7 linked regions of the Homo sapiens genome follow. The protein of the gene in region 1 interacts with the protein of each later gene in a pairwise test. Each region holds a gene or a part of one and is shown in the gene's direction. Other genes may lie near its edges. The genes, in order: TNNT1, LARP1, ARMC8, WDCP, JAKMIP2, HMGXB4 and TULP3.

Region 1 (3,500 bases):
CCAACATGGTGAAACCCTGTTTGTACTAAAAATACAAAAATTAGCTGGTAATGGTGGCACATGTCTGTAATCCCAGTTACTTGGGAGGCCGAGGCAGGAGAATCACTTGAACCCAGGAGGTGGGGGTTGCAGTGAACAGAGCAGAGATTGCACCACTGCACTCCAGCCTGAGTGACAGAGCGAGACTCCATCTCAAAAACAGAAAGGAAACTAATTCAGGTACGGAGTGCTGGGTGTACAAAAAGCCTCATGTCCACCATAAGGAGACGGGGCTCAGCCTGGACAAACCACTGTTTCTGGAACATTCAATGAAGAGTTTCTCGAATGTCGTAATGCCTTCGCTCAATATTCCAGAACCCCTTCCTCAGGCTCAAGGCCATCAGCCTCTTTAATCTCCCCAGTCCCTGGTCTTATCACCAGTTACTTCCCTTGACCCCCTCAAAACAGACATTCTCATATCCTGAGACTAAGGGCGACTGTGGCCCAGACAGGCTGAGCATCTGGAGTGAGGTCGTACAGCAGAGTTCACTATCGGCTATTTCAGGGTGGAGACATGCAGAAAAAGCAGGCATTTCTTCTTCTCCTTCATTTCGATTTTTTCTGGGAGGATATTAAGACCCAGAGAAGGGGGCCAGGTGCGGTGGCTCACGCCTGTAATCCCAGCACTCCGGGAGGCCGAGGCAGGCGGATCACTTGAGGTCAGTAGTTTGAGACCAGCCTGGCCAACATGGTGAAACCGCGTCTCCACTAAAAATACAAAAATTAGTTGGGCGCGGTGGCGGGTGCCTGTAATCCCAGCTACTCAGGAGGCTGAGGCTGGAGAATTGCTTAAACCCGGGAGGCGGAGGTTGCAGTGAGCCAAGATCGCACCACTGCACTCCAGCCTGAGCAACAGAGCGAGAGTCCGTCTCAAAAAAAAAAAAAAACAGAGGGGAAGGGACTTGTAGGTGGTCACACGGGGAGACGTGGCAGGGCCGGGAGTGGGTACCCCTGCGTTTCTGCTGGTTCTGATGTCCCAGCAGCCTCTGCGGCACTGGGTCTGCTGATCCCTGTGCCCCAGTTCCACATCCCAGGGCCCTCCTCCCTCAGTCCTACAGGGGAGTCCATGAGGTTAACCCCTTACTTCCCACAGGAGGAGAAGATGAGGAAGGAAGAGGAAGAGGCCAAGAAGCGGGCAGAGGATGATGCCAAGAAAAAGAAGGTGCTGTCCAACATGGGGGCCCATTTTGGCGGCTACCTGGTCAAGGTGAGTCAGCCTGCAGGAGCCTGAGGTCTGAGTTCTGAGGGGGCAGGGGCTGGGGGCCAGACCTCTGGTTCCTAACGGAGGAGGGGCTGAGGCCTGGATTCCTGGGTCTGAGGGAGGAGGGGCTGGGCCCTGAACTCCTGGGTCTGAGGGAGGAGGAGCTGGGGTCTGGACGCCTGGGTCTGAGGGAGGAGGGGCTGGGGTCCTGGACTCCTGGGCTGAGGGAGGAGGGGCTGAGGGCCTGGACGCCTGGGTCTGAGGGAGGAGGGGCTGGGGGCCAGACTTCTGGTTCCTAATGCGAGAGGGTCTGGGGCTTGGACTCAGTCTGAGAGGAGGGGCTGGGGGCCTGGACTCCTGGGTCTGAGGGAGGAGGGGCTGGGGGCCTGCACTCCTGGGTCTGAGGGAGGAGGGGCTCGGGGCCTGCAATCCTGGGTCTGAGGGAGGAGGGGCTGGGGTCTGGACTCCTGGGCTGAGGGAGGAGGGGCTGGGGGCCAGACTTCTGGTTCCTAATGCGAGAGGGTCTGGGGCTTGGACTCAGTCTAAGAGAAGGGACTGGGGGTCTGGACTCCTCCTGAATCTGAGGGAGGAGGGAGTGGGGCTGGACTCCTAGGTCTGAAGGAGATGGGCCTGGGGTGCAGACCTGTGGTCCCAACATGGAAATGGTCTGTGGGATCCGACGTGTGGGTCCCGACACGGCAGTGCTCTGTGGGATGTGGCCCCCAGTTTACTGTTCCGCCTCCCCCACCCTCAGGCAGAACAGAAGCGTGGTAAGCGGCAGACGGGGCGGGAGATGAAGGTGCGCATCCTCTCCGAGCGTAAGAAGCCTCTGGACATTGACTACATGGGGGAGGAACAGCTCCGGTAGGTGCTGTGGGGGGCTCGGGGTGTAGGGGCCTGGGTGTGAGACAGGGGGATAAAGGAGCTCACACCCAGATCTGGGTGGGCAGATACTCCGGGTCTCAGCTCCAGTGCTATGTGACTTTGGGCAAGTGGCTTCCCCTCTCTGGGCCTCTGCTGCCTTCTTTGTGAAACATGTCACTGAACCCACTTTTCGTGGCTGCCGTGGCCTGTAGCATCTGACAGGTGTTACCAAGGAAGCCAGACAAGATGACTTCCCTCCCCCAAGTTTAGGAGATTTTGTTAACTCCGTGATGTGCCTTGGAGCTCAGGATGGGCTGTGCCTTTTACCTAAATTCAAGCCAGGAATGCGGGTGAGAATTTTCCAGCTGAGTCCCTCGCATCTATAGCCAAGACAGCCTGCCTCTCATGATAAGCTACAGGACGGCAGGCTGGTGGGGGCTTGCCTTCAGGAGCCCGCCTGTTTCTCCATGTTCTCTGGCCTGGGCTGTGGCTCAGAAACTTCAACCACCCCAGAGTGGCGCCGTGATCGGGTTTGCCGCTTGCACCGAAAGCCCCTGCCCAGGGCTCAGTGCCAGCTTTGCCGGCTACTTTGTGATCTTGCGCACGTTATCTGACTTCTCTGGGGCTCCCATTCCTCATTGGCAGAACAAGGATATAATCACAAAATTGACCTCACAGAGCTGTGAAAGGGCAGTGAGATAGTAATAATAATTACAGGCTGGGCCCGGTGGCTCATGCCTGTAATTCCAGCACTTTGGGAGGCTAAGATGGGAGGATTGCTTGAGGCCAGGAGTTGGAGACCAGCCTGGGCAATGTAGTGAGACCCCATCCTTAAAAAAATAATAATTACAGCAGCAGCTTCCTGTGGAGGGTTTACAACCCTGTGAGGTAGATACTATTATTATCCTTGTGTTAATAGTGAGGAACCTGAGGCACAGAGAGGTTAAGTAACCCTTCCAGGGTTGCACAGCTAGCAAGTGGAAGAGCTGGGATTTGAACCCGGCAGTCTGGTGCAATAGTCCGTACTCTTTGCTAGTGTGCTGTAAAGTGGCTTCATGGTAAATGTTTAACAGCTGCTCTCCAGGGGGCAAAATGTCTAGATTTAGCACATGCCCATTCCCAGGGCGTAAATACTTCCACCTTGCTCCTTTCAAACTACCCGTGTGGGGACACTGAGTGTGGAGACGGGAAAGGATGTGCACAGCAGGCTCCTGGAAGCCCTCTGGGGGGCGCTGTGGGCCCTCCTTCCTGTGCACATGGTTCATGTAAAGTATTGTTGGCCGGGCGGGCGCGGCGGCTCACACCTGTAATCCCAGCACTTTGGGAGGCTGAGGCGGGCAGATCACCTGAGGTCAGGAGACCAGCCTGACCAATATGATGAAATCCCATCTCTACT
Region 2 (3,500 bases), on another chromosome or scaffold:
TCTTGGGAGTTAACGAGGAGTCTCTAACACACTGACGGCCACTGACCAGCTTATTTTAGAGATGAAAAAGAGGGCTAATGTGTGGGAAAGGGATCTGCCCAAGGTAACCAGATTGTGATTTGGGCCCAAGTCCAGGGCAGAAGAAGAGGAGTTGGGTAGAGCTGGCTAGGAGTGGCCTCTCCCTCAAGCCTTTCTCATGTACCCATGCTGTCTCCCAGGAAACAAACACAAGTGGGTTCCATTACAAATAGACATGAAGCCTGAAGTGCCCAGAGAGAAACTGGCTTCACGCCCCACTCGCCCACCGGAGCCTAGACACATACCTGCCAATCGCGGAGAGATCAAAGGTATGCACTACCCACTATGGAGGGCCTGGACTTGGGAGACACCCTCAGGCCTGACCTGGTACCCCTCTCCCCATAGGGTCTGAGTCTGCCACCTACGTGCCCGTGGCCCCCCCCACCCCAGCCTGGCAACCAGAGATCAAACCGGAGCCTGCCTGGCACGACCAGGATGAGACATCGAGTGTGAAGAGTGATGGGGCTGGTGGGGCGCGGGCTTCCTTCCGTGGCCGTGGACGGGGGCGTGGTCGCGGCCGGGGACGCGGCCGGGGTGGCACTCGAAGTACGTGAGGCCCCTTTGGGCTCCGGGATGTCCAAGGGTGTGCAGCAGGGGTGGTGGGCAGGAATCTCCTCTCCCTCATGGCACCCGTTTCCCCCATAGCCCATTTTGACTACCAGTTTGGCTACCGAAAGTTTGATGGTGTGGAGGGGCCTCGTACGCCCAAGTACATGAACAACATCACCTACTACTTTGACAATGTCAGCAGCACCGAGCTTTACAGTGTGGATCAGGAACTGCTCAAAGACTACATCAAGCGCCAGATGTGAGTGTGCGGAAGCCTTCTTACCCTGGAGAAATGAGTGAGAGGTTAGGGGTTGCTAGAGTGTCATAGCTGGGCAGGCCCTTCTGGTGCTTAGCAGCAGTTTCAGCCTCAGGCTGAAAAGATAGCTTTTCTCATTGTTTATTAAAGAAGTGATACCACATTCTCATTGTTTATTACAGAAGTGGTACAACATTTACCTTAAGAAAGTTAGAAACTATACCATTACAAAAAGGAAGGAAAATATTTAGAATCTACCCCCTTCTGTTCTTCCATTTGTAATGACAACATTGACAGAATACTAACATTTATTGAATCCTTAGTATCGGCCAGGCTCAGTGTTTATTGTTGTAGAGGCATTATCTTAGTCCTGCAGTTCTTATCTGTTGAATTCCTATGAGCTGAGTCTTTTAGCCCCAGTTTATAGACAAGCAAACCGGCCCAGTAATTTGCACAGAATCTCACAGCTAGTAAGTAACAAAGCACAGATTTAAATCCTTTTCTGTCCTATTATAGAACCTTTGTTCTTAACCACTCTGATATATTGTCTCTCAGTCCAGTAAGGAAGTCATACAAGAAAATAAATGGTTGCAATAGAGTGTTTATAAGTGTTTTAGGAGCAGAAGAGAAAGTGACCAACAATATTTGGACTGGAATTTAAAGGAGGATGAGGAGTTTGACAGGCATGTCGAGGGGCTTAGGGCAGAGGGAGTGATTTGACCCAAGCAAGGTAGGGTGTCATGAAGGGATCACATCATTTCTTTTCAGCCCTCAACACTGTTGGTATATAGGATAAGGATGGGGTAGGTCAGAGGCTGTGTGAGATTGCTGGGGTGTGTAGCAGAACAAGGAAGGCATACTCATAAAACTGATGCACCAATCCCTCGGTGATAACTACTTCTTCCCTCCACTTAGTGAATACTACTTCAGCGTGGACAATTTAGAGCGAGACTTCTTCCTGCGAAGGAAAATGGATGCTGATGGTTTCCTACCCATCACCCTTATTGCTTCCTTCCACCGAGTGCAGGCCCTTACCACTGACATTTCACTCATCTTTGCGGTATGTCTTCCTCCCTGGAGCTGGGATGCAGGGGAAAGAAAGGTCCTTAGGGAGCTGGAGTTTGGGCCAAGGCAGAAAGCCCTGGAAGAGTCATCATCTGATGACTTCTGCTGAAGTCTCAAGGCTTGGCTAGTCTCCTCCTCTCCCTCCTTCCTTCCTTTCTCTCCCTCTCTTGCTCATTATGGAAAATGTCAGACACTTAACAAAAGTAGAGTAGTATAATGAGCCCATCATCAGCTTCGGCAGGTATCAGTTTATGGCTAATCTTATTCCATCTGTACCCTCATCTGTTTATTCTCACATACTACATTGAAGAAAATCCTAGAAAACCTAGCATTTTGTTCACAAATATTTCAGTATAGATTTCTAAAAGATAGACTTGTTAAAAGAAAATAGCCACAGTATCATTATCATACCTAAATTAACAGTTTAACATATTAACAGTTCCTTAATATCATCAAATATTTAGTTCAGATTCATCCCAATTGGCGCCATATATATATTTATATATATATTTTATATATATTTATATATATTTTATATACATTTATATATAAAATATACATTTATATATATTTATATATTATATATTTATTATATATTTATATTTATATATTATATATTTATATATTATATATATTTTTATACATATTATATATTTATATATTATATATTTTTATATATATTATATATTTATATATTATATATATTTTTATATATATTATATATTTATATATTATATATTTATATATAGTATATATATTATATATATATTTTATATATTTATATATAGTATATATATTATATATATTTTATATATTTATATATTATATATATATTTTATGTATTTATATATTATATATATATTTTATATATATATATAGTTTGTGAGAATCAGAATCCAAATAATACCTATAGGCTGGGTGCAGTGGCTCACACCTATAATCCCTGCACTTTGGGAGGCCAAGGGGAGGGTCATGTGAGCCCAGGAGTTCAAGATTAGCCTGGGTAACATAGCAGGACCCTGTCTCTACAAAAAACTAACAAGACCTGTGTATTGTCTTATTAAGTCTCCTCTTGCCTCTATTTTTCTTTTTCTTTGCCGTTTATTATTTGAATAGACTAAGTTGTACATCCTGTAGGATTTTCCACAGGGCACAGGGATGTCATTTTAACATGTTCATCTGTACTCCAAGTTTTTTGTAAATTGTGATCTAGAGGCCTGATCAGATTCAGGTTTTGAAGTTTTTTCCCCTCCTTGTCAAGAATACTTTATCATAATGATGTATTTTCTCTCAGGTGGCACATAACATTTCATTTGATTGTCTCTCTTGTGCTATAAGCTGCCAGCAGTGTTCGTTAGGATTGCAAAATGACAATATACTAATTCTGTCAGTCGGTCTTCATTTATTAGGTGGAATACCTCTTCAAGAAGTAACTTTGCCTCATCAACTGTTCAGTTACCAAGAGGTATAGTTTGTTCAGGAAGGGCAGATTAATGTTTGATCTTCCTCCCTTTGTTAGCCAGTTTGCATAATTATGAGTTGATCTCTAATA
Region 3 (3,500 bases), on another chromosome or scaffold:
TTTGAGATGGAGTTTTGCTCTTGTTGCCCAGACTGGAGTGCAGTGGCGCAATCTCGACTCACTGCAACCACCGCCTCCGGGGTTCAAGCGATTCTCCTGCCTCAGTCTCCTGAGTAGCTGGGATTACAGGCATCCACTACCATGCCTGGCTAATTTTTTTGTATTTTTAGTAGAGACAGAGTCTCACCATGTTGGCCAGGCTGGTCTCAAACTCCTGACCTCAAGTGATCCACCCACCTTGGCCTCCCAAAGTGCTGGGATTACAGGTGTGAGCCACTGCACCCGGCCGAGATTCTTTATCTTCTACATGAACCTGCTATCCTGTATAAACCGGCTTTCTCAGGTTAGAGTGATACAGAATTCTTCCAAACTCCAGTAAATCTTATTCTTCTTACTCATTTGTACATATGAATTTTAACTTTGTATATATATATTCTGTACATCTACTTTGAGCTTCTGCCATTTGCTAGGCAAGCATGGTGTTGAGTTTGGGAATACAGCCGTAAGCTACACAGACCTCTGTCCTTTTGGAAATGTTAGCCTAGTGGGAAAAATAGATATCAAATAATCACACAGTTTGTGAATGGTGATTAGTATTATGAATGAAGTATATAGGGTGCTGTTCAAAACATGTCATAGAGGAAACTGATCTAATATGGAGGGCAATAGGAAGAACTAGGGAAGGTTTCCCTGAAGAAGTGATGCTGAGCTGAAAGTTCAAGGATAAGTAAGAACTAACTAGAAAAAGTGACAGAAGAAGAGCATACAAGGCAAAGGGAACTGCTTTTGCAGAGGTCTTTAATAATACTCTATCTTGTCGTATTAGAGAGTAAATTAATTCAGAAGTAACACTTTGTCTTGCAAATCCTAGGTACTCAGTAAATGTTTGATTGAACTATCTATTTTGGAGGGTTGGACAAACTCTCCAGCCCTGTTTCTAGACTGCACTATGACCACCCCATCCCTCTTTGGTTTGCATTTAACATTACAACATCACCCTTTTCAACAAATTCATAAATTTCTGCAATGTTTTCTATACTTTTGAATTATGTTGATTGCATTTTTAAAAACATTTATTTTGAAATAATTATAGATTCACAGGAAGTTGCAAAGATAGTACAGACAGGTCCCTGTGTACACTTCACCCAGTTTCCCTCATAGGTTACATCTTATATAGTTACATTATAGTATCAAAACAAGGAAATTGATCTTGGTATAAGTATGTATCTGTTTCTGTATCATTTTATCACATGTTTATTTGTGTTACCATTACCACCACTGTCAAGATACAGAACTATTCCGTCACCGCAAAGATCTCCCTCATATTCCCTCTTTATAGTCCCACCTACCCAGCCTCTCCCCGCAACAGGTATCCCTAACCCCTGGCAACCATAATCTGTTCTCCATCTCTATAATGTTGTCATTTTCTATAATGTCATATGAATGGAATCATACAGTATGTGACTTTTTGAGGTTGTTTTTTGTCACTCAGTATAATGCTTTTGAGATCTATCCATATTGTTGTATGTAGCAGTAGTTCCTTTTTATTGTTAAGTAGTATTTCATGGTGTGGATGTACCACAGCTCGTTTAACCATTTACCTGTTGGGCGTTTTGGTTGCTTCTAGTTTTTGGCTATTATAACGTAGTATGAACAATCATGTACAGGTTTGTAAGGACATAACTTTTCATATCTCTGAGCTAAATGCCCAGGAGTGCAATTGCAGGATCAGATGGTAAATGCATGTTTAATTTTAAAATAAACTGACAAACTTTTCCAGAGTGGCTGTACTATTTTACATTTCTACCAGTAATATATGAGACATTGTTTCTCTGTATCCTCACTGCCATTTGATACTGTTATTATTTTTATTTTAGCTGTTTTAGTAGATGTGTAGTAATATCTCATCATGGTCTTAATTTGCATTTCCCTAATGATTAATAATGTTGAGAATATTTTTATTATTTATTTATCCTTTTTTTTTTTTTTTTTTTTGAGACGGAGTCTCCCTCTGTTGCCCAGGCAGGAGTGCAGTGGTGTGATCTCAGCTCACTGCAAGCTCCGCCTCCTGGGTTCACACCATTCTCCTGCTTCAGCCTCCTCAGTAGCTGGGACTACAGGTGCCCGCCACCACACCTGGCTAATTTTTTATATTTTTAGTAGAGACGGAGTTTCACTGTGTTAGCCAGGATAGTCTCAATCTCCTGACCTCATGATTCACCCTTCTCGGCCTCCCAGAGTGCTGGGATTACAGGCTTATTTATCCTTTTGAGACAGTCTTGCACTGTCACCTAGGCTGGAGTGCTATGGCGTGATCTCAGTTCACTGCAACCTCTGTCTCCTGGGCTCAAGCAATCCTTCTGCCTCAGCCTTCCAAGTAGCTGGGACTACAGGTGTGTGCCACCATGCCTGGCCATGTAGACGGGGTTTCACCATGTTTCTCAGGCTGGTCTGGAACTCCTAAGTGTAAGCCATACTCCCAGCTCAGCCTTTCAAAGTGTTGGGATTACAGGTGTGAGCCACTGCACCTGGCCTGAAAATCTTCGCTTATTTGCCATCCATGTTTTCTCTTTGGTGAAATATTTCTTCATGTCCTTTTGCCCACTTTCTAATTGGAGTGTTTGCTTCTTTACTGTGGTGTTTTAAAAGCTCTTTATAGGTTTTATTTTTATTTTATTTTATTTTTGATATGTGTTTCGCTCTTGTTGGCAAGGCTGGAGTGCAATGGCCTGGTCTCAACTTACTGCAGCCTCTGCCTCCCAGGTTCAAGCGATTCTCCTCTCTCAGCCTCCCAGGTAGCTGGGATTACAGATGCCCACCACCATGCCTGGCTAATTTTTGTATTTTTAGTAGAGATGGGGTTTCACCATGTTAGTCAGACTGGTCTCAAACTCCTGACCTCAGGCAGTCTGCCCATCTTGGCCTCCCAAAGTGCTGGGATTACAGGTGTGAGCCACCGCGCCGGCTTATCTTATTTTTTGAGAGAGTTTTGCTCTGTCATCCGGGCTGGAGTGCAGTGGTGTGATCTCAGCTCACTGCAACCTCTGCCTCCCAGGCTCAAGAGATTCTCGGGCCTCTGCCTCCCAAGTAGCTCAGATTACAGGCGTGTGCCACCGCGCCCAGCTAATTTTTTGTGTGTATTTTTAGTAAAGATGGGGTTTCGCCATGTTGGCCAGGCTGGTCTCAATCTCCTGGCCTCAGGTGATCTGCCCACCTTGGCCTCCCCAAGTGTTGAGATCATAGGCGTGAGCCACCGTGCCCAGCCAAAAGCTCTTTATATGTTTTAAATCTGAACCCTTTGTAAGATAGGTATTTGCAAATATTTTCTCCTAATCTGTAACTTGCCTTTTCATCCTCTTAACCACAATTTAAGATGAACCTTGATCTCATACCTTATACAAAAAGTAACTCAAAATGGATCATAGATTTTATCATAAAATAAAACTTTTAGAATAAAACAGGAGAAAATCTGCAGAACCTTAGGTTTGGTGAATAACTTT
Region 4 (3,500 bases), on another chromosome or scaffold:
GTTATTTCATTGTGACAACCTTTTCCTTATATAATAGAGATACTCCTCCAGTTATAAAAAAGGTTATGTTGCTGGGCTCCATGGCTCACGCCTGTAATCCTAGCACTTTGGGAGGCCGAGGCAAGTGGATCACCTGAGGTCAGGAGTTCGAGACCAGCCTGGCCAATGTGGTGAAACCCTGTCTCTAACAAAAATATAAAAATTAGCTGGGCATGGTGATGGGCGCCTGTAATCCCAGCTACTTGGGAAAGCAGGAGTATCACTTGAGCCCGGGAGGCACAGGTTTCAGTGAGCCGAGACTGTGCCACTGCACTCCAGCCTGGGCAACAGGGCGAGACTCCGTCTCAAAGAAAAAGGAAAAGGTTATGTTCATTTAAAATGTTTTGATGCATTTCTTTATGCATGCATGTCCAAACATTATATAAGTGGGATCATATTATACATGTTTTTATCATGGACACTTTCCTCCTATATAAAATATGGCCTTGCCCCATCTTCCCCTTAATCCGCTGTAACCAGCAGCTTAACATGGATCCTTTCGTGACTTTCTCCATGGTCACATGATCTAACACAGGTCTTTGTGTACATAGATATATAGGTATGTGGGAATGGTTTGTCATTGTTTTTACAAAAATAGGGTGATATGGTGCACTCTTTACTTCATACTGAGAGTATGCTCTTTATTTAGCCATTCCCTTGTTGATTGACATTCACTTTGTTTTTAGTTTTTAGCTACTCCAAATGATGCTGCAGTAGTACTCTTATATGTATCCATTCATATTAGTACCTTTATTTCTGTTGGATTGGTTCCCAGAAGTAGAAATGCAAATTTGAAGAGTATATGTGTTTCTACTTTTAATTGAGTTACCAGATTGCCTCTCAAAGATTTTTACTTAACAGTGCATCATCACACGCCCGCCAGCTATGTATAAGGCTGTCCTTTTCCTCGTATGTCACCAATCTGATCAGTGACCCTCCTGCTTCAGCCTCCTGAGCAGCTGAGACTACAAGCACATGCCACCACACTTGGCTAATTTTTTTTTTTTTTAGCAGAGACAGGATCTTGCTATGTTGCCTAGGCTGATCATGACCTCCTGGGCTCAAGTGATAGTCTTGCCTCAGCCTCCCAAAGTGCTGGGATTACAGGTGTGTGCCACTGCATGTGGCCCCAACCCTACATTTTTTTAAAGAGGATTTTTGCCACATTAACTACATGGAGTTTTCAGTAGTAGAGTTTTAATTTTTTTTTTTAAGTCACAGCTTTGCTGTGAGGAGCATTTTATTTTATTTATTTATTTATTTATTTATTTATTTATTTATTTATTTTTGAGACGGAGTCTCTGTCACCAGGCTGGAGTGCAGTGGCGCGATCTCAGCTCGCTGCAACCTCCAACTCCCAGGTTCTAGCAATTCTCCTGCCTCAGCCTCCCAAGTAGCTGGGATTACAGGCACGTGCCACCACACCTGGCTAATTTTTGTATTCTTAGTAGAGGCGGGGTTTCACCGTGTTGGCCAGGATGAGCTCAATCTCCTGACCTTGTGATCTGCCCGCCTTGGCCTCCCAGAGTGCTGAGATTACACGTGTAAGCCACTGCGCCCGGCCTAATTTTTTTTTAATTAAAAAAAATTTTTTTTTAACTATAGAGACAAGGTCTTGCTATGTTGCCCAGGCTTGTTTGGAAGTCCTGGGCTCAAGCAGTCCTCCTGCTTCAGCCTCCCAAAGCGCTGGGATTACAGGTGTGAGCCACTGCACCCAGCCATAGTTTTGATTTTTTTAAAATTATTTTATTTATAAATGTGATAACTGGTTTGGATTTCTTTCCTACTATGACTTTTTAAAGAGTTTGTTTTCTTTTTCTTCTGTCTTTTTTTAATAGGTAATTCATTTATTTGGTTTAAAAAGCAAAACTGTATTTTAATAAAAACTGTATACCAAGAACTCTTATTCCTACCCTATGTTTCTTCAGCCTGTTCTCCTTTCCTCCTTTAGGTAACCATTTTTATTTTTATTTCTTTATGCAGATACTAGCAGACTTTAGTTATGTATTTTTATTTCCCCTTTTGTTACACAAAAGGGAAGGTGATATACACACCTTTTCATTTTCCATTTAATAGTATGTCCTAGAGAGCTCTTTATATCAGCACACAGAGCTCTTTTTTCATCTTTTTTTCCACAGCTGCATAGTATTTTTTTTTCCTAATTACAAAAGTAATATATACTTGTTGAGGAAAAAAATTTTACCATTACAGAAAGTAAAAATTTTCCATAATCCAACCTTTAGAGAAAATCACAGATATAGCTAAATATTTTATTAGATGTTAGATGTAAATATTTCCATATTTTTTCTGTACATTTATCTAATCCAAAAAAAATCTAATATAAAAATATATTATTTTTAAAATTTTCTTTAAATAGGCTATTTTACTTGCAAACAATAATATATCTTTCTGTTTTTAAAACACTTATAAATGTAAAATTTTATATTTTTAAAAACTAAGGTTAAAACAACCATGTTTGGCCAGGCACAGTGGCTTAAACCTGTAACCCCAGAACTTTGGGAGGCCGAGATGGGTAGATCACTTGAGTCCAGGAGTTCGAGACCAGCCTGGGCAGCATGGCAAAACCCTGTCTCTACCGAAAAATACAAAAATTAGCCAGCCGTGATGGCACCCACCTGTTTTCCCAGCTACTTGGGAGGCTGAGGTGTGAGGATCACCTAAGCTGAGGAGGTTGAGGCTGCAGTGAGCTGTGATCGTGCCACTGCACGCCAGCCTGGGAAACAGAGCAAGACTCTGTCTCAAAAAAAAAAAAAAAAAGTTTTGTTGCCCTTTCAATTCCTCAGTTTTTTAGTTTATAATTATGTCATCCAACCAAGCTGTTGTCAGTAGTTATCTCTGGAGGATAGAATTTTGGGGGCTTTACTGTCTGCATTATATATTTCTGTTATATTTTTATTTTATTTATTTATTTTTAGATAGAGCTTTGCTTTGTCACCCAGGCCGGAGTGCAGTGGCGCGATCTTGGCTCACTGCAACCTCCGCCTCCTGGGTTCAAGCGATTCTCTGCCTCAGCCACCCAGGTAGTTGGGATTACAGGTGTGCACCACCACACCCAGCTAATTTTTGTATTTATAGTAGAGATGGGGTTTCACCATGTTGGCCAGGCTGGTCTCGAACTCCTGACCTCAAGTGATCCACCCGCCTTGGCCTTCCAAAGTTCTGGGATTACAGGCGTGAGCCACCACACCCGGCCCTATTATACTTTTAAAAAATTGATCATTTATTCCTTTTGTAATGAGAAAAGTAAAAGTTACACAATAATCAAAAGCAAGAAATAGTTTCCCCTGTAATTTCAGAAATTACATTTCATAAGACGTGAAATAAATGATTAGTTGGTTTTGACTTTTACAGTTTATTCCTGTGACTTCATTTAAAAATATTAGTGGACATATTCTTTGAGTGGTTCATCCTACCACAGTGATGTATAGTTTTATTTTCTT
Region 5 (2,896 bases), on another chromosome or scaffold:
TAGTAATAGGAGAAATAAAGTTTGCCAAATAAATTTTGCTGCAGTATTTTGTTTCAACTTTGCTTTCAATTTTAAATAAATCTCTGGCAAACTTGTTCCTTTTTGCCCATTGACTGTCAAATTTTCCTGTAAACCCATTGTGTAATTCTTATGTTTGCTTTAACATAATTCACAAGTTCATTGTTTCAAAATGAAGCACGTCTTTTTAACCTGCCTAGGTTTTTGTAGAAACTGTAAAAAGAATATTCATTGGTTTTGTGTTGATGTTTAAATAATTGGATCATCTGTGTTATATTACATCAAGATAGATGGACAGCATAGAAATTTTATTTTTAAAATATTTAATTGCATTATTTCAATCTGTCAAAGAGTGGCACAGAATACACACACAAACACACACACACACACACACACACACAGAGCAATAGAAATTTGCTCTGTAATTTGGGAGTTGCATTGCTTGTTGCCTTTTGTGAAATTTTCATAACAGTGTTTTGGTAATTAATGACAGCTTTTGGCAGTTTAATTCTATCATTTTACTAATTTAGATTTATCTATTACATTGAAAAAATTCAATATAACTTTTGAATGATAAACATTCAAAGCAAATCTTAGATGACTGTTTATGTCATGAGTTTATGCTTCCAATATGGACCCAAGCCCCTCTTTAAGCAGACTTCTAGGTCTTAAGTGAGGAAAGATGTCATTGTGTTCTACTGCCTTGTCATTTCTATATAATGTAGTATCTTGAGATCTAATTTCAGGCATATTGGCAAGAAGATACAGACATAATGGAAAGTTGGAGCTAATCCCTGTAAGGCCTCTTCAAGTGCCAAATTCTATTATTCCATTTCAGAATGGGGCAGGGCAGATTCACAATCCTTTGCTGTCATTAGTTTGGCGGTTTAGTTCTTCCTAAATAAATCTCTTGCTGGGAGTCCAAGTCCAATGCTTAATCAAAATTCCTAAAGATAGCTACTCAGAAGGCTAAGGTGGCAGGATAGCTTGGGCCCAGGAGTTTCATAACGGCCTGGGCAACATGGTGAGACCTCATCTCAAAAAAAAAAAAAAAAAAGAAAGAAAGAAAAGAGGGAGAGAGGAAAAAAACTACTAAAGATATACTTATAGGGGCAATGTAGCAAAAATAGGATTATAATTTCCTATATTCAAATTAATGTGGCAGAGATACACGTGGTTGATTTGGTGAGGGTTCCTGTTTTTGTTTTTTTCTGCATTACGGTCTTTGTACCCATGCTTATATTTTCATCCTTGTTATATGCAAAGTTCTGTAGGGTGAGAATGGTAAAGTTAAACAACTTTGAGCCCAATTTTGCCCACAATCAAGATCCCACGAACTTACTAAAGAGTGGATGATGCAATTTTCCAACTAAAACAGATCCCCAGCATCTGTTAGTAACAACACTTCTATTTGACTGACATCTCACAGACTGTGCCTATACCAGCCATTAACCATAGCAACTTCCCACAATGAGGCAGATCAAAATCCAAACATTTTTATAAATATGTGATGTAAATATATGCACAGATATATTCTGTACATAGTATGATGGTGTGAGCGCTTACTAAACGTGTACTTCTGTTCTAGGATGCAGGACTTCAAGAAAGGTTTTTTCTGCGCTGCTGCTGCTTCTGCTGGGAACTCATGTTTTTGTCGAGCATTTAGTGTTTGAACTCTTCCCATCCTTGACTACCTCTTCTCTCCCTTACCCCACCTTCTGTTCACTACTATTATTTCCAATTGTTGACTGAGGCAGAGACCACTCGGTTTTTCAATTATCCAGGCCCATAAACCAGCAAATAGGTTTTTTTTATTTGTTTGGTTGGTTGGTTGATGTTTCTTTTTTTTGAAAGAGCAACAGAAAGTTCAGCACAATCTACAGTATTAAAATTAGCCAAAAGTCCCATATCTTTATTAGCTAAAAATTCCATCTCAACAGGGTTCATGCATGTTTTAGCCTTCAAGATCCAATACTTTGGGGACTCAAGTATAGAGCTAATGTGTTTGAATACATAATTCCCCAGGTGTTTACTGTGTTAATGTAGCCAAGGGTCCAATTTCACAGAGCTTTCATTCAATCAACTGCCTCAATTGGGGTTCTTTCTTTCCATCTCATTAGCATGACTCCATATATCACTTCAGTGCTTGTTTATTAATGAAAGAAAAATAAAAATTGACTGAGTTTCACCAGAATGATCCTCTGAAGTACACCGAATATGTACATGTACTGTATGTATTACCGTAGAGATTGGAATCAACTTACTGTATGTAAAGTTTTATGAATGGTTATTTTATAATTTATGTATTTAATATAGGAATCGATGAACTCTGGTGTTTTAGTTTATATAAAAATAAAACAAGCTGCATTTTTTAAAAACTTTATCTTTCATTGTTTATAGCTGTTTGTTTAATGAACTCTTCCACTTGTTTTTTTCTAAGACAGTCTTGGTCTGTTGCACAGGCTGGAGTGCAGTGGTGCGATCTCGGCTCACTGGCTCACTGCAACCTCCGCCTCCCAGGTTGAAGTGATTCTTCTGCCTCAGCCTCCCAAGTAGCTGAGACTACAGGCGTGCACTACCACACCTGGTAATTTCTTTGTATTTTTAGTAGAGATGGGGTTTCGTCATGTTGGTCGGACTGGTCTCGAACTCCTGGGCTCAAGCAATCCACCAGCCTTGGCTTCCCAAAGTGCTGGGAATTACAGGCATGAGCGACAGCGCCCTTCCTCTAATCTACTTTTGAAAAACAGGGTGAGGCAAATCAGGGCTATCAGTGTAATGTAGGGAAATAAACTCTATATCCAGGACAGTAAATAGATTTATTCTTGTCTTCCCATTCTGCATTTGTTACTGTGTGTGCTATGGGCACTATGATAAG
Region 6 (3,500 bases), on another chromosome or scaffold:
TTGTTCTGAGTGCCGATAAACCAGTGTGAAGGAGGAGAGAGGTGGAGGGCTGGTATTTTGGAGGATTCAGCATAGAAGAACAGTCTGCATTTGTGATACACCAGGTACCAGGTTCCTTCTCCCCCCAATCATCCACTTATCTTGTGCCCATTGTTATCTAGCATCCCTTTTGCCATACGTAGTCCTCTGGCCTGCACCTGTGGGTCACTTCTCAACCAGTATATATCCACTCACAGAACCAGTTTTCTTAGCTATGTTATGCACATAGCTGATGAGACTCAACTTTCACCAGAATGGGTTTGTCCTGAACACAGAAACAAATGATACTCTGTCTGCAATCTGAATTGTTAACTTCCCATAATCCCACAGCTATAGTCAGTTCTTCTGGGTATGTGCTCTTTGGTTGCTTCTGAAGACTCAATGAAGAGAAACAACTTTAGTGGCAAGAACTGTGTCCAGGGTCAGAGGCAGACTCTACCAAGCCAAGAAGCACAAGGGCATCATTTCTCAATGTTAGGAATCAGTTAAAGGGTCTCCCTTCAAATCATTCCTGTTAGCCTCTTTCTCATGTTAGCTAGGTGCTTTTGATGAGAGAGGAAACTTGTTAGAAGTTGCTTCCCATCATATTGACAGTACTTCTCTTGATTATTTCTAGATATTTCGTCTTTGGAATCGTCACAGAAGAAAAAGAAAAAGTCCAGCCCACAGTCTACTGATACAGCTATGGACCTGTTGAAAGCTATCACTTCCCCACTGGCAGCAGGCTCCAAGCCCTCCAAAAAGACTGGGGAGAAATCCTCTGGCTCTTCAAGCCATTCGGAGAGTAAAAAGGAGCACCACAGGAAGAAAGTCAGTGGAAGCAGTGGGGAACTACCCCTAGAGGATGGTGGCTCCCACAAATCGAAAAAAATGAAACCTCTCTATGTGAACACAGAGACACTGACCCTTCGGGAGCCTGATGGTTTAAAAATGAAACTTATTCTGTCACCAAAGGAGAAGGGAAGCAGCTCTGTTGATGAGGAGTCTTTTCAATATCCCTCCCAACAAGCGACTGTGAAAAAATCCTCAAAGAAATCAGCTCGGGATGAGCAGGGTGCTTTACTCCTAGGACATGAGTTACAGAGCTTTCTGAAAACAGCCCGGAAAAAGCACAAGTCATCCTCAGACGCACATTCATCTCCTGGCCCTGAAGGCTGTGGGTCTGACGCCTCCCAGTTCGCAGAGTCCCACAGTGCTAACCTTGATCTTTCAGGGCTTGAACCTATTCTGGTAGAATCAGACTCATCCTCTGGTGGGGAACTAGAGGCTGGGGAGTTAGTGATAGATGATTCTTACCGAGAAATCAAGAAGAAAAAGAAGTCAAAGAAGAGCAAAAAGAAGAAAGACAAGGAGAAGCATAAAGAGAAGCGACACTCCAAGTCCAAGAGAAGTTTAGGACTTTCTGCCGTGCCAGTGGGAGAGGTCACAGTGACATCTGGCCCTCCTCCCAGCATCCCATACGCTGGAGCAGCAGCACCTCCCCTGCCACTTCCTGGCCTCCACACAGATGGGCATAGTGAAAAAAAAAAGAAAAAAGAAGAGAAGGACAAAGAGAGAGAGAGAGGAGAAAAGGTAAAGCATCTTTTAAGTGTGGTGGGGGTAAGAGATTAAGCAGGTTCTTCCTGGGTAGTCAGTGGACTTTTAAGTTAAGCAGTTGAGGTAAACCACTGGGAATTAAGCATGTTTGGGGGATATGTTGGAATGATATAAAGTATAAAATATTACCAGTAGCCCAGTCTGTCTGATATAGAAGCAATCTTTTTTTTTTTTTTTGAGATGGAGTCTCGCTCTGTCGCCCAGGCTGGAGTGCAGTGGTGCAGTCTGGGCTCACTGCAACCTCCTCCTCCCAGGTTCAAGCCTCACCCTCCCAAGTAGCTGAAATTACAGGCACCCGCCACCACACCCGACTAATTTTTTTTTTTTTTTTTTGTATTTTTAATAGAGACGAGGTTTCACCATGTTGGCCAGGCTGGTCTCAAACTCCTGACCTCAAGTGATCCACCCACCTCAGCCTCCCAAAGTGCTAGGATTACAGGCATGAGCCACCATGCCCGGCCTAGGGTTTCTTAATAGAGTTATTCTCCCATTGTGCCAGGAATAGGTTTAGTTACACTGTGGCTTTTTCCAGCTAGTTCTTAGAATTCACAGAAGGAGCTAAACCCAATTTCTTTCACTTAGCATCACTGTCTGCTTAGGGCAGTTGGGAGATGTCAAAAGGTGTTCTTTGAGTTCATTTTTAAAAACAGACTATCAAAATTGGTAGAACAATGAGCAGTCAAGTTAACAGAATAGCTAATGACTTTCCACCAGCTGGTGTTGGCTACTTTCTGGTATTCTTTTTAGTGTCGAATATATGTTCTTTTACTGTCTGAGTGCTTGCTGTATGCCAAGCTCAATGCTGTAGATAGTACCAGGAAGTAAAAACACAAGCAGGACATAGTTGTTGACTTTAGGGAGCTCACTGTTGATTAGGGAGATAGGAATGATAAATCAGTCACCTTGGTTTGATTTCTTTCCTCATAACAGTTTCTGGCAGTGAACTTTAGGGTCTCATAACTATGTCATTAAAAGTTTCTTTTTTTATTTATAGTTCTGCAAAATGCAATGTCAGATAAAATCTGGAAGAAAAGCGACTAAGAACGAGAAAATCAAATGTATTAAGAATCTGGGGCTGGGTGTGGTGGCTCATGCCTGTAATCCCAGCACTTTGGGAGGCTGAGGCAGGTGGATCCCTTGAGCCCAAGAGTTCGGGACCGGCCTGGGCAACATAGCGAAACCCAGTCTCTACAAAAAAATACAAAAATTTGCCTGGTGTGGGGGTGCACATCTATAGTCCCAGCTACTCAGGAGATTGAGGTGAGAGGATTGCTTAAGCCCAAGAGGTGGAGGCTACAGTGAGCTATAATCTTGCCACTGCAACTTCAGCCTGGACAGCAGAGTGAGGCTCCCTGTCTCAAAAGAAAAAAGAAAAGAATCTAGGAATGGGAATTTAGTTTGATCTCTGAGGTGGAAGTTATTTCTCCACTATAAAGGGTGCCTTTTAAGAAAGTCTGCTTATATCTATCTGTTTATATCTATCTGTAGATCTATATCTGTTTATCAGTATGTGTGTGTGTATATATAATATATATAAAATAATATATTATATATATATACACACACACATCTGTTTATCTCAAAAAAACCACAAAGCTGTACCTCTGAGCCAGGAATCAGTGTGAACATAAAGACCTGGATATTCCAATACTAAGTCAGGTTTTATTCAGTTGTTTATTTGGAAAATTGCTTTATGAAATAAACACTATGTGTTCTTTATAAGATTCTGTTTATCCTAAGAATTTCCAGTCTAGTGACGTGATAATGCCATGGACTAATCATCCAGTGCTGAATGTCGGAGCACAGGGTCAGGGAAAGCTTGAAGAAGGAGAAGGTTTCAGTGGAAGTGGACGCATGGAGGCAGA
Region 7 (3,500 bases), on another chromosome or scaffold:
CCAAAGTGCTGGGATTACAGGTGTGAGCCACCATACCTGGCAAGATACTCGTTTTCAGGGTATGTGGGCACCTTAGCAAGCTGCAGAATGGATTTTCTTTTCTTTTCTTTTTTTTGAGACAAGAGTGTAGCCCTGTTGCCCAGGCTGGAGTGTAGTGGCATGATCTTGGCTCACTGCAACCTCTGCCTCTCGGGTTCAAGCGATTCTTATGCCTCAGCCTCTCGAGTAGCTAGGACTACAGGCAGACGCCACCATGCCTGGCTAATTTTTTGTATTTTTAGTAGAGACAGGGTTTTGCCATGTTTGTCAGGCTGGTTTCAAACTCCTGGCCTCAAGTGATCCACCCATCTCGGCCTCCCAAAATGCTGGGATTACAGGCGTGAGCCACTGCGCCCAGCCCAGAATGGATTTTCTGATTCTTGCTGTGATATTTCTGACATGGATGCATATTAGGTAGAGTACATTTATTTCGTCTGATGAAAATGGATTAAAGTACAACATAGTTCCTTTGAGCCAAGTTGCTCATCTATTTGTATGATGAGAGGTCATCACTGCACTGAATGATATTTTAAGAAGTCTAGTTTAAAAATTTTAGTCTTACCTTCCTATGATCTTGCTTTGTGGGCGGGGAGATTAAGTTAGTTTTTTTATTTTGTTTTTTTTTTTTGAAACAGAGTCTCGTTCTGTCGCCAGGCTGGAGTGCAGTGGTGCAATCTCAGCTCAGGCTCACTGCAACCTCCACCTCCCAGGTTCAAGCGATTCTCCTCCCTCAGCCTTCTGAGTAGCTGGGACTACAGGCGCATGCCTCCACGCCCAGCTAATTTTTTTAATTTTTAGTAGAGATGGGATTTCACCATGTTGGCCAGGATGGTTTCAATCCTTTGACCTCGTGATCTGCCCGCCTCAGCCTCCCAAAGTGCTGCGATTACAGGCGTGAGCCACCGTGCCCGGCCGAGATTTTTAAACAAACTGATAGACTGCAGACAACTAGCCTGATGCTGGTTGTACTCTGTGGTTGGTCAGTCTGTTGGAAAACTGTCATAGTGTAACCTTAGCCCATCACCTCTAGGGTGACTCCTTGTCTAGGAAAATTGAGAATTAGTTAAACTATCATTAATTTAAATGAAGTTTTATTTATTTTGAGATGGTTGCTCTGTTGCCCAGGCTGGAGTGCAATGGCGCGATCTTGGCTCACTGCAACCTTTGCCTCCCGGGTTCAAGCAATTCTCCTGCCTCAGCCTCCCAAGTAGCTGGATTTACAGGCTTGTGCCACCACATCCAGCTAATTTTTGCATTTTTAGTAGAGATGGGGTTTCCGGCATGTTGGCCTCGAATTCCTGACCTCAAGAGATCGGCCCACCTCAGCCTCCCAAAGTGCTGGGATTACAGGCATGAGCCACTGCGCCGGTCAGAGCTTTATTATTTTATTGGATAAAGTTATTTCATGGAAATTTCCACCTATCTGATCTCCTTTAATTTCTTACTGTTTATTTTGACATCACCATTCAATATTTTAGCAGGATAGTAAGACATACCACTAAATTCTTGGGAAGATAGATTCTTTTACAGTTCAATTCCCAAGATAATTAGGAAATTTAAAAGTGATTAAGTTTTAGTTTATATGACACTTAAAATCACGAAGGCAGTGTGTTTTAATTGCATTTAGGGCATCTAACCATCAGCTCTGGCTTTCTTCCTGGCTCCCTGACTTACTCTATCTTGGTAATGAGTCCTTCATTGATGTAGCCTCGTTTAAAGCACTTTTAGGTTTTCAGGGAAGTAAAATATAGATGGAATAGGAATTGACATTGTTACATTCAAACACAAGTAGCACTTCTCTCCTCCCCCATCCAAACTGCATGACGGTTTTCACCAAGATGGCAGCTTGCACATATATGTTTAATGGTATTTTTCTTATTTGTAAACTTGGACAGTAGTAAGATCATTCAATACTGAGGTATAGTAGCTGTGGCCCTGATTACAGTTTGAGTCTACAGTTGTTTTTTTCTTAAGTCATTGGTCTAAATGAGTTTGATTTGTCTGTAAGTAGATAGAGAGAGGCTTCCCCAGATACCTTGGCAGGAACACTGTGGTCAGGGGTCTAGTCTCCCCTTAACAAGTGAGAGCTTAGTTTGTCAGTGAACTGGATATAACCAGGTCCTTTGGCACAAATTCACGCTAGTTAAACCCACACCAGTAAGTTTTAAAACCAGAACCCCAAGTTATTAATTTATAAAGGGAGCTCTACTCTTTCAGTGTGTATTCATGTCTACTGTTCATAATACTCTTTTCCTGGGAATACGATACCTAAGAAGTTAAACTTCAAATTAGAAGGCTTATTGGTGAGCAAGGAATCAGAGGGAATGAGGTCAGGAGTTTGAGACCAGCCTGGTCAACATGGTGAAACTCCATCTCTACTAAAAGTTTAAAAATCAGCTGGGCATGGTGGGGTGCACCTGTAATCCCCGCTACTCGGGAGGCTGAGGCAGGAAAATTGCATGAACCCGTGAGGCAGAGGTTGCAGTGAGCCGAGATCGCACCACTGCACTCCAGCCTGGGCAACACAGCGAGACTCTGTCTCAAAAAAAAAAAAAGATACTTCTCTTTCTTGGACAAACCTGATAACCCTATCAAATTCTAGCTCTTTGGCCTCCCTTTTCTAGACCACAGCAGAAAACTCCTTTTCTATAGAAAATATTTTCCTTGGCCAGGTACGGTGGCTCATGCCTGTAATCCCAGCACTTTAGGAGGCCAAGGCGGGCGGATCATGAGGTCAGGAGATCGAGACCATCCTGGCCAACACGGTGAAACCTCATCTTTACTAAAAATACAAAAAATTAGCCGGGCGCGGTGCCGGACGCCTGTAGTCCCAGCTCCTCGGGAGGCTGAGGCAGGAGAATGGCGTGAACCCGGGAGGCGGAGCTTGCAGTGAGCCGAGATCGCGCCACTGCACTCCAGCCTGTGTGACAGTGCAAGACTCTGTCTCAAAAAAAAAAGAAAATATTTTCCTTGCATGTGAACCCCATCTCTACTAAAAATACAAAAAAAATTAGCTGGGTGTGGTGGCAGGTGCCTGTTATCCTAGCTACTCCGGAGGCTGAGTCAGGAGAATTGCTTGAACCCAGGAGGCAGAGATTGCAAGTGAGTTGAGGTTGCACCATTGCACTCCAGCCTGGGCAGCAAGAGTGAAACTCCGTCTCAAAAAATAGCTACAGCATTCATTTTTGTTTTTGTTTTTGTTTTGAGACAGTCTCGCTCTGTCGCCCAGGCTGGAGTGTAGTGGTCCAATCTCGGCTCACGGCAACCTCTGCCTCCCAGGTTCAAGTGATTCTCCTGCCTCAGCCTCCCAAGTAGCCGGGATTACAGGCGCTTGCCACCACGCCTGGCTAATTTTATTTTTTAATAGAGACGGGGTTTCACCATGTTGGCCCGGCTGGTCTCAAACTCCTGACCTCAGGTAATCCGCCCACCTCGACCTCCCAAACTGCTGGGATTACAGG

What was found.
Region 2: the proteins of TNNT1 (region 1) and LARP1 interact in a two-hybrid assay, tested with the Homo sapiens proteins (one large-scale study listed by BioGRID and IntAct).
Region 3: the proteins of TNNT1 (region 1) and ARMC8 interact in a two-hybrid assay, tested with the Homo sapiens proteins (one large-scale study listed by BioGRID and IntAct).
Region 4: the proteins of TNNT1 (region 1) and WDCP interact in a two-hybrid assay, tested with the Homo sapiens proteins (one large-scale study listed by BioGRID and IntAct).
Region 5: the proteins of TNNT1 (region 1) and JAKMIP2 interact in a two-hybrid assay, tested with the Homo sapiens proteins (one large-scale study listed by IntAct).
Region 6: the proteins of TNNT1 (region 1) and HMGXB4 interact in a two-hybrid assay, tested with the Homo sapiens proteins (one large-scale study listed by BioGRID and IntAct).
Region 7: the proteins of TNNT1 (region 1) and TULP3 interact in a two-hybrid assay, tested with the Homo sapiens proteins (one large-scale study listed by BioGRID and IntAct).

The regions. Positions count from the first base shown.
Region 1 is NC_000019.10:55,135,707-55,139,206, reverse strand, and holds part of TNNT1 (troponin T, slow skeletal muscle), read left to right. Parts: intron 1-1,132; coding exon 1,133-1,246; intron 1,247-1,994; coding exon 1,995-2,104; intron 2,105-3,500. UniProt on the Homo sapiens protein: Troponin T is the tropomyosin-binding subunit of troponin, the thin filament regulatory complex which confers calcium-sensitivity to striated muscle actomyosin ATPase activity.
Region 2 is NC_000005.10:154,793,377-154,796,876, forward strand, and holds part of LARP1 (la-related protein 1), read left to right. Parts: intron 1-218; coding exon 219-347; intron 348-423; coding exon 424-624; intron 625-723; coding exon 724-886; intron 887-1,798; coding exon 1,799-1,943; intron 1,944-3,500. UniProt on the Homo sapiens protein: RNA-binding protein that regulates the translation of specific target mRNA species downstream of the mTORC1 complex, in function of growth signals and nutrient availability.
Region 3 is NC_000003.12:138,190,301-138,193,800, forward strand, and holds part of ARMC8 (armadillo repeat-containing protein 8), read left to right. Parts: intron 1-3,500. UniProt on the Homo sapiens protein: Component of the CTLH E3 ubiquitin-protein ligase complex that selectively accepts ubiquitin from UBE2H and mediates ubiquitination and subsequent proteasomal degradation of the transcription factor HBP1.
Region 4 is NC_000002.12:24,033,892-24,037,391, reverse strand, and holds part of WDCP (WD repeat and coiled-coil-containing protein), read left to right. Parts: intron 1-3,500.
Region 5 is NC_000005.10:147,584,938-147,587,833, reverse strand, and holds the end of JAKMIP2 (janus kinase and microtubule-interacting protein 2), read left to right. Parts: 3' UTR 1-2,396; downstream 2,397-2,896.
Region 6 is NC_000022.11:35,263,993-35,267,492, forward strand, and holds part of HMGXB4 (HMG domain-containing protein 4), read left to right. Parts: exon of another isoform or gene 1-104; intron 105-655; coding exon 656-1,611; intron 1,612-3,500. UniProt on the Homo sapiens protein: Negatively regulates Wnt/beta-catenin signaling during development.
Region 7 is NC_000012.12:2,914,891-2,918,390, forward strand, and holds part of TULP3 (tubby-related protein 3), read left to right. Parts: intron 1-3,500. UniProt on the Homo sapiens protein: Negative regulator of the Shh signaling transduction pathway: recruited to primary cilia via association with the IFT complex A (IFT-A) and is required for recruitment of G protein-coupled receptor GPR161 to cilia, a promoter of PKA-dependent basal repression machinery in Shh signaling.